Linked DNA regions of Homo sapiens: region 2 is linked to region 1. The links come from fine-mapping of genetic effects on gene expression. A gene starts in region 1. The other region holds a variant in brackets. All regions are shown on one strand. Distances are between the middles of the regions. Region 1 holds the start of PDCD1LG2 (programmed cell death 1 ligand 2). Region 2 overlaps INCR1 (interferon stimulated noncoding RNA 1).

Evidence for each region. PIP is the estimated chance that this variant, and not a neighbour inherited with it, causes the effect. A credible set is the group of variants that fine-mapping cannot tell apart.
Region 2: its variant is the best candidate, but not a certain one, in a credible set for the expression of PDCD1LG2 in fibroblasts (GTEx, PIP 0.67).

The regions. Positions count from the first base shown.
Region 1 is chr9:5,507,735-5,512,133 of GRCh38, forward strand. It overlaps PDCD1LG2 (programmed cell death 1 ligand 2), which reads left to right and starts at 2,797. Exons shown (of 7, transcript NM_025239.4): 1 at 2,797-3,069. The region is part of intron 2 of INCR1 (interferon stimulated noncoding RNA 1); the gene reads right to left. RefSeq lists enhancers at 1,345-2,544, 2,486-2,565, 2,626-2,685, 2,846-2,895.
Region 2 is chr9:5,485,189-5,489,587 of GRCh38, forward strand. The region is part of intron 2 of INCR1 (interferon stimulated noncoding RNA 1); the gene reads right to left. Among named protein-coding and RNA genes, the nearest start is that of PDCD1LG2, 23 kb to the right of the region's middle. The variant G/A (reference allele first, on the strand shown) is at 2,603.

The sequences.
Region 1 (4,399 bases):
GCAGTGAGCTGAGATCTCACCACTGTACTCCAGCCTGGAAGACAGAGTGAGACTCCATCTCAAAAAAAAAAAGTTAATAAACAACATGCTGACAAGGTTATGGAGAAAAGGGAATGCTTATACACTATTGGTGGAGTGTAAATTAGTTCAACCATTATGGAAAGCAGTGTGGCAATTCCTCAAAGAGCTAAAAACAGAACTACCATTCAATCCAGCAATCCCATTACTGGGTATATACCCAAAGAAATGTAAATCATTCTATCACAAAGACACATGCACACACATGTTCATCATAGCACTATTCACAATAGCAAAGACATGGAATCAACCTAAATGCCCATCAACGACAGACTGGATAAAGAAAATGTGGTACATATACACCAAGGAATACTATAGAGCCGTAAAAAAGAGCATGTCCTTTGCGGGAACATGGATGGAGCTGGAAGTCATTATGCTTAGCAAATTAATGCAGGAACAGAAAACCAAATACCACATGTGTTCACATATAAGTGGGAGCTAAGTGATAAGAACACATGGACACAAAGAGGGGAACAACACAAACTGGAGCCTAGCTGAGGGTGGAGGCCCCAGGGAGGAGGGAGATGAGCAAAAAAAAAAAAAAAAAAAAAAAAAAAAAAAAAAAAAATGACTGGGTTCTAGGCTTAGTATCTAGGGGACAAAATAATCTGTATGACAAACCTCCATGACACGAGTTTACCTATGTAAAATAAAAGTTTAACAAAAAACTAAAAAAGTTACCTATGTAAAACAAAAGTTTAACAAAAAACTAAAAAAAGTTACCTCCACCCAGAAATGCCTTTATTAACACTTTGGTTTGTAACCCTCCATTATTTTCTCTAGACATATAGATTTATGAGGCAGGCTAATGTGCTGAGACACTAGCTTGAGTTTCATTTGGCCTTGCTGTGAATATACCTGGGCCTTCCTTTGCTTCAGGATGCCCTAAACTGTGGCAAAGCAGAGCTGAACTGCCCAAAGGAAAGTGTGAAGAGGAGAGGCAGGCCAAGCCTGGAGAAAGGCTACCCAAGAGAGAGGAAAGGAAACTGTGGTGAGTGCACCTCACTCCTAAAGAAGGACAGGAACTCTGGTAGGTGAGGTGTGTTTTCCATAGATACTAAAACTCAAAGCCACACAGGGGACATATGTCCATTCCTCAGCCAGTCACTGTGGCCAGGAACAGAGGGTCAGGTAAGAGAATGGCAACTCCTAAGGAAACCACATGCCTGGAGCCGTGGGTGTAGAAGCAGATCCCCAGAGGAAGCACGGGTCCCACAGACACAGTCCCAACTCTTGCCGTCTAGGCAGCCACTCCCATCTGTAGGTACTACACAGCTTCGTAGTACTTCTTAAAGTACTTCTTGTTCAAGCGATGGGACGAAAAGAGGATGCAGGACAAGGAGGAGGAAAGGAGATCCTTGCTTTTGTAGAAGAAACAAGGAGGCAGGGAAGGCTTAGAGGACAGGCAAGGAGAGATGTTTTCTTAAAAACATCCTCTGTCTGAGTGTTCAGCCCCACATCTCTGCTGGTCCTACCCCTATAAGCACAAGGAAAAGGGCGGGAGGCAGCAGGAGAAGGATTGATCATTCAGGCCTATATTCAAGTTTGCCTTTTCTTGCCATGTGGTTTTAATCTCACCAATCACAAGCCTGAAGGTATAGTGGGGCCACTGAGGTCCGAGTTCAAATTCAGCCATGCAACTAAGGAAACATTGTTTGATCTTGGTCCTGTTTTCTCATGTGTAAAATGGGTCTAACTCTAAACCACACATTGCACTGAGAATGAAATGAGGCACTATGAAATGAAGTGAGGTTAGTTGAATAATGTTCCCCCCAAATTCATGTCTACTGAGGACCTCAGAATGTGACTATATTTGGAAGTAGGGTCTACGCAGATGTAGTCTAAATGAGGTCATACTGCATTAGGGTGGGCACTAATCAAACGGATGGTATCCTCATAAGAGGAGAGGAATGTAGAGATACACACAGAAAAGAATGTCATTTGAAGATGGAGGCAGAGATTGGAGTGATACAACTATAAGTCAGGGAATGCCAAGGACTTGAGGTCATGTGTTACAGAAGCCCTAGGAAATGAGTCAATTTCCTGGCACAGCACTAAGACATGCTGGTATTCTTCATTCCATCCCTTTCCCCTATTCCTAAATGTGCTCCAGGGACAATGGGGAAGCTGGAGCACATATAAGAATAGGGGAAAGAGAGGGAATAAAAGGGTATTAAAAACTCTCAAGGTATGTTAAAAAAAAGACTCTCAACAAACCAGGTATTGAAGGAACATACCTCAAAATAATAAGAGCCATCTATGATGAACCCACAGCCAACATCACACTGAATAGGCAAAAGCTGGAAGGATGCCCCTTGAAAACCGGCACAAGACAAGGCTGCCTTCTCTCACCACTCCTATTCACCATACTATTGGAAGTCCTGGCCAGAGCAATCAGGCAAGAGAAAGAAAGAAAAGGCATCCAAGAAGGAAGAGAGGAAGTCAAACTACCCATGTTTGCAGATGACATAATTTTATATCTAGAAAATCCCACAGTCTCAGCCCAAAAGCTCCTTAAGCTGATAAACTTCAGAAAGTTTCAGGATCCCACATGAACATACAAAAATCACTAGTATTCCTAAACACCAACCATAGCTAAGCCAAGAGCCAAATCAGGAATGCAATCCCATTCACAGACAAACTGCTAAAAGCAAAACCAAAACTTTCCAAATAAGCCAGGCTTTCGTCAGTTCCTCAGAACTAGTTCTGGTTTGACTCACTCTCATGTTACGGCAAACCTTAAGCTGAATGAACAACTTTTCTTCTCTTGAATATATCTTAACGCCAAATTTTGAGTGCTTTTTTGTTACCCATCCTCATATGTCCCAGCTAGAAAGAATCCTGGGTTGGAGCTACTGCATGTTGATTGTTTTGTTTTTCCTTTTGGCTGTTCATTTTGGTGGCTACTATAAGGAAATCTAACACAAACAGCAACTGTTTTTTGTTGTTTACTTTTGCATCTTTACTTGTGGAGCTGTGGCAAGTCCTCATGTGAGTAACGAGTGGGTTGAGATACTCTCATACTATTATGTTGTGGACCATGATGAGGCTGCCAGGGTGGGGGAAGGGTGGCCTACCTTCTCTCCACACCATTTGAGGCAAGAGACATTCTGCCTCAGAAATTGTGCTGAGGGGCACAAATAAGCTAATGTCCTCCTGCCCCAGATTTCTCTCACTTGTTCCTATGCATATTGTTCTTGTTGCTCAGTTTTATAAGGTGAGATATTTTCTGCACCAAATATGTGCACTGTAAAATAATATAACTATTCTTAAGATTGTCTCTCAGCTTAGAGTTTTCGGAGGCTTAATGGTGAAGAACTTAAAAATCTGTTTTCCTATGACTGACATCTGTTTGTGATTATCCATTTAGCAGACGGTGATCCCTCCAGGCTGGCCTTTGTTTACAAGCTATGCCTAAGAGGCAGCTGTTGGTGGAGGGGGAACAAAAACAAAAAACCCAAAACTATTATCTTAATAACTTATAGAGGTAATCATTATTGAACAAAAGCATGATTTGGGGACTATGGAAAGGCTTATTCTTTCCATATAAAATGATCAGCGAAAAGGTAGAAAAATTAAACAGAACTGAAATAATTGCTATTGATTGCTCACCGCCTGGATGCACTGAGTAGAAGAGCAAAGGCAATGGGTTCATGTGGAGGGGATGGAGGTGGAGAGGCTAAGCCTGAGTGAGATTACCAACTAATCAGGACTTTTAACCCAAAAATACTATGGCTCTGAGGGGCAGGGAATGAGAGACCTAAATTGACAAAATGCAGAGTAAAAATATTCAGTGTGAGCAGTAATGAGACAGTTGTATCAGGGTCAAATACGGAGTTGGCCTGGATGTCCTCCAAGCTCCTTTCCAAGCCTAAGATTCTGTGAGTGGATGAACAATCCTGGTCCTGCTGCTCTTGCCACTGGAACCTGATCTATTTGCCTTCATTATTTGAGGTCTCCCCATCATCAGGCTCTTTGTTGTCTGCTGCTTCAGGGTGTCTTCTCCCCAGATTTCTCCTGTTGGTGAGCTTTTCCATTGAACTGGAGCTCCTCACAGGCAAGAAGCACACCTTTAAGGTTCTCTGAGTCCCAAGTTCCTAGTGCAGTACCTGGCAATACACATAGGTGCTTAGTGGGTGCTTGCCGAATTGTTGAATGGATTTATTTGATGAAATGTCAGGAGAATCACCAGAAATGAAATGTTCGTGTAATGGACAGGGGGAAGTTTGAGGTTGATTTGAAAAAGGAGATGGTAGAGACAGTATTATGGGTCATGCTTCAGAGTTTATTTGCTTTACAATACATTGGACAGCAACCAGTA
Region 2 (4,399 bases), 23 kb before region 1:
CCCTAAGTTGGTAAAATCAACACTCCATTGGAGCCACAAAGATGACAACATAATGGTATGGGGAAGTCCTACCTACACAGGACATCTGGCAGGGTCCGGGCTTCATGTCTGACATATCGTCAAGAGTTACATTGGCAATGAGACTAGTTTTCGTAAATTTATTCAGTTTGATCATTCAGCTGATTCAAAGATCAAAAGATCCTTTAGGGCTGTGTTTTCTGACCTTTTTAAGGCTGTGGTACATGGATTTGTTAGGCTAACTGAGACAAATAAATGAGTTTGTCTCTTCACTATGCTGATAATACCTTGGCAAGTCATCAGTCAAGCTCTTTTTCTCACCCTTACCCCCAGATCTACACCCTGCTCCTACAATCTTATCTCTGTCTCCTTCTCCCTTCTAAAAGAAACCTGATGAAACAAAAAGAAGAAACCCAGAGATAATAATACACCCAAGATCATACTGATAGACCTACATGTGCCAAACATTGGTTGAGAAATAATGTCTTGTGATCCACAATAATCAGTACCAAAAATCCAAGTACTTCACGCGGTCTTAGGAAACAAATATGTGGGAAAGGCTGAGGCTTGGCTTATTTAGTTAGCTTTTGTTTTAGAACTACATAAACAGAGAGTGTAAATAGTAACCTGATTAAAAATACGGACTTTAGGGTTAGTTTATCTGGGTTTGAATTCTGGTTCTGCTGCTTCCTGTTTATCTGACCTTTGGTAAGTGACTTAACTTCTTTGTGTCTCTATTTCTTCATCTACGTATCTGACCCAGAGAGTTGTTAGGATAATTATGTGAATTAATATGTGCAAAAATTTAAAAATAGGGCCTATCACATTGTTAACAGCATATATGAGTTGGTAAAAGGATATATATATATGTTGCGTCTTAGGCATGGAGTAAAATTCATGTAAACAAAAAAACAGAGTGAATATTCACTTAGGCAGGCAGTCTGCTCCATGTAATCATTCAAGGATTCAGATAGACAACGGCTCTGCCATCTTCAACATGTGGTCTTCAAATTTTCCCTGGAGGTCTCCATACAGTTAAATAGACTAGAAGGGCATACAGAATCTCAGTGGGAGATTTTTATGCGCTAGATTTAGGAATGATGCGCATAATTTCCTTTCACATTCCATTAGTTAGAATTTAGTCACATGACCATAACCTAATCCCAAGGGAGACTGGAAAATGTAGGGTAGCTTCCCAGGAGGAAGAGGAGTATATAGATTTGATGGAAGACCTATCAGAATTGGTTATAACTGAGTATCTGGACAACACCATATTGGTACTGGTATCCTAGCAAGAAAAGTGTACATTGAATTGTAGTATCTATAGTGCCATTAGCCTTTCATGAAGTTATTTTAATAAAACAACTTTTTTGAAACTAGTTATTAAATACGGTCTAAAAATAATGATGAGGAACTCTTTATTTCATTACCTAGTGTGCTTTCTAAAGAACACTAGGAAAAATTTCCCTTTGACCTTAATACAAACACACAAACACAAAATAGTTGTGTTTCCCCGAGTGAAAAGTTGCTTAGCTTTGCCCCTGCTCCCCAAATCTTGGAAATATTATTAATTGTTTAACTGTCCAAGCTTGGCTTAGAAAGCTTAGAATCAATTTTATTCTTTCACTCAACTAATTTACTGAGCATTTACTACATGTCAAACTTCAAGCTAGACACTGAGGATTCAAGAGGGAACAAGACAGACATGGTTCTTGCCCTCATGGAATTCACATTCTAATAAGGGGTCAAGGAAGTGGATGTGTGGAAACATATAACGAATAAACAAATGACTATATAAATGCAGCAATACCAATCAATAAGGGACCAAGCTAAATAATTGCCAAATTGGGAACCAATTTTAAATGGGATGGCTGGGACAGGGGCTTCTTCAAAAAGGTTGAATTTAAACCGAGCCAGCCATACAAAAGGGCGTACCCCCAGCAGGAGGCACAATGTGCACAGGAGCTTTGATGAGAGATTGAGTTAAGGAGTTCAAGGGCTAGAAAGGAGGCCAGGGTGACTAGAGAGTGGAGAGCAGAGCAGGGAGGGGCACAAGATGAGACTGTGCATCACGCAGGCCCGTGACAGCCATGGTGAAGAGTCCAAATTCTGTTCTAAATGCGGTGGGAAGTGGTTGCAAGTTTTTGTTTGTTTGTTTTTGTTTTTGTTTTGAGACAGAGTCTCGCTCTGTCACCAGGCTGGAGTGTAGTGGTGCAATCTCGGCTCACTGCAACATCTGCCCCTCGAGTTCAAGCGATTCTCCTGCCTCAGCCTCCCAAGTGGCTGGCACTCCAGGTGCACTCCACCACGCCCAGCTAATTTTTGTATTTTTAGTAGAGATGGGGTTTCACCATGCTGGCCAGGATGGTTTCGATCTCTTGACCTTGTGATCCACCCGCCTCGGCCTCCCAAAGTGCTGGGATTACAGGCGTGAGCCACCGTGCCCGGTCAGTTGCAAGTTTTAAGTAGGGGGAAATGATTGATCCAGCTTGTGTTATGAGATCATTTGGGCTGCAGTGTGGAGGAAGAACTAAAAGGACATGGAAGCAGGAGGACAGCCAGGTGATGGGTGTCGTAAGCCTGG[G/A]AAATGTGATGGTAATACAAGCATGTCAAGCCCGCAGATCCTGACAGTAAGCATGCCTTCCTGACTTGTGCCCGGGGAGAGGAGGCGACAGTGATTCTGACCTCTTCTTATTTCCCTCCCTTTCTAGCGCCACTTTCCTGAGCTTTTTTACTGTATGTTATGTATACCGTATGCTGTATGCTGTATGCTGTATGCTGTATCTAACAGCCCTTGTAAACAGCCTTAAATCCTTTCTAAACATCCTGGATAGTCCTAGAATCCTAGAATATGGATTCTTTCTTGGTTTCAAAACTGATTTCATTATATTGCATGGAAAGAAGAAATGTCTTTATTGTAGAGTGTTGGTATTTCTGGGTAGGTTGATTCAAAGATTAAGTTGTGAGGGCAGTTGGGACTTTTAGAGAAAGTGGATCTAGAAAATCTAAATTGTTACTAAGAAATATTGATGAATGTAGGTCATGGAGCTCAGAAAGAAGTATCTCTTTGATATTTTTCCTAAACTATGTGAAAGGGAAGCAATGGGAAATTTCGTGAACGGAGTCAGGAAAGCCTCAAGTTGGGTGGCTAGGAAGGGTAGAGGAGTTGCTATTAGGGAACCGAGGAGTGAATGTGGAGATGGTGAAGTGAGACAGGAGGCTGCTTCCTCAAAAGTCAGGACAGTTATGAGAATGCTCTGGTTTGAATGTCAAGATGTTACTGGAAATGAATAACTACAAATACACGCATGTTCATGCACACACACATACACAAACACATGAAGCTATTGAAAAGAATATGCAGCAAATGTGTTTTGTAAGTGAGCTAGTATCTAGTTGAAGTACCATGATCATCTTTAAAATCTCTTGCTAGAAGAGGAATGTTGACTGCCCAGTGTGGGTGTGGATAGGGAATGAATATCCTCGCTGTGGTATCCATAATTGAAATGCACTGTGCCTCATCTCCAGACCAGCCCTTACAGCAGTGCCAATCTCCTTCTTGTCCACTGCACAATAGCTCGCTGACTCTGCCTACTCTTTGGTCAGTTTCCCGGATATCCTTGTCTCTTCATTCTTAGTACATCACATCATTACTCAGGCCTCTTGCCTGGGCCCCTGGCAGCTTTAGGTACCTCATTCAGCGCAACTGTTTTCCTGTTTTCTTGAGCAGTGAGGTCATAATTTCATGACCTTGGATACACATTGCGTGAAGTAAAATGTTTATTAAGTCAGATGAATTAATAACATTTTCAGGAAGTTCATAATTGATGGAGACAAATTACATATGTACCATACATCAACACACACACACACAGAATGTGCACACTCAGGAGAGATTAATAGTGTGTATGTTTATTAGATATAAAGCAGCTGTAGCCTATGAAGAAAGGACAGAAGAAACAGCGAGGTACAGGAACTAGAGTCGACAAAGAAGAAAAGCAAAGATGCCCACATACATCCTACTTTTAATGCAAAGCTTGTCTCTGCTGGATAACATCACAAATCCCCCAACTAAAATCACCAATTGTTCTGTCCCTAAAGATATCTTTCTAGTTCTCAATCCCAGGCCAGGTGGGGCTCTATTTAACTCTCTTTTATTTAATCCACTTTTGATCACTCTTAGGAAGTTTCACTTTACTCAACAAGCTCAAGATTGATCACCCTTGACTTTATCTGTTTATCTTAGGAGTGTTTGGTTGAAGACAGAACCACAGATGCCCATTATTACTAGTATTATCATAACAATAAAGAGGAGCAATAGTAAATAAAGGAAACCCAGAGCCAGATTATCGGGACTTAAATCTGTTTTCCCACTTTTGTG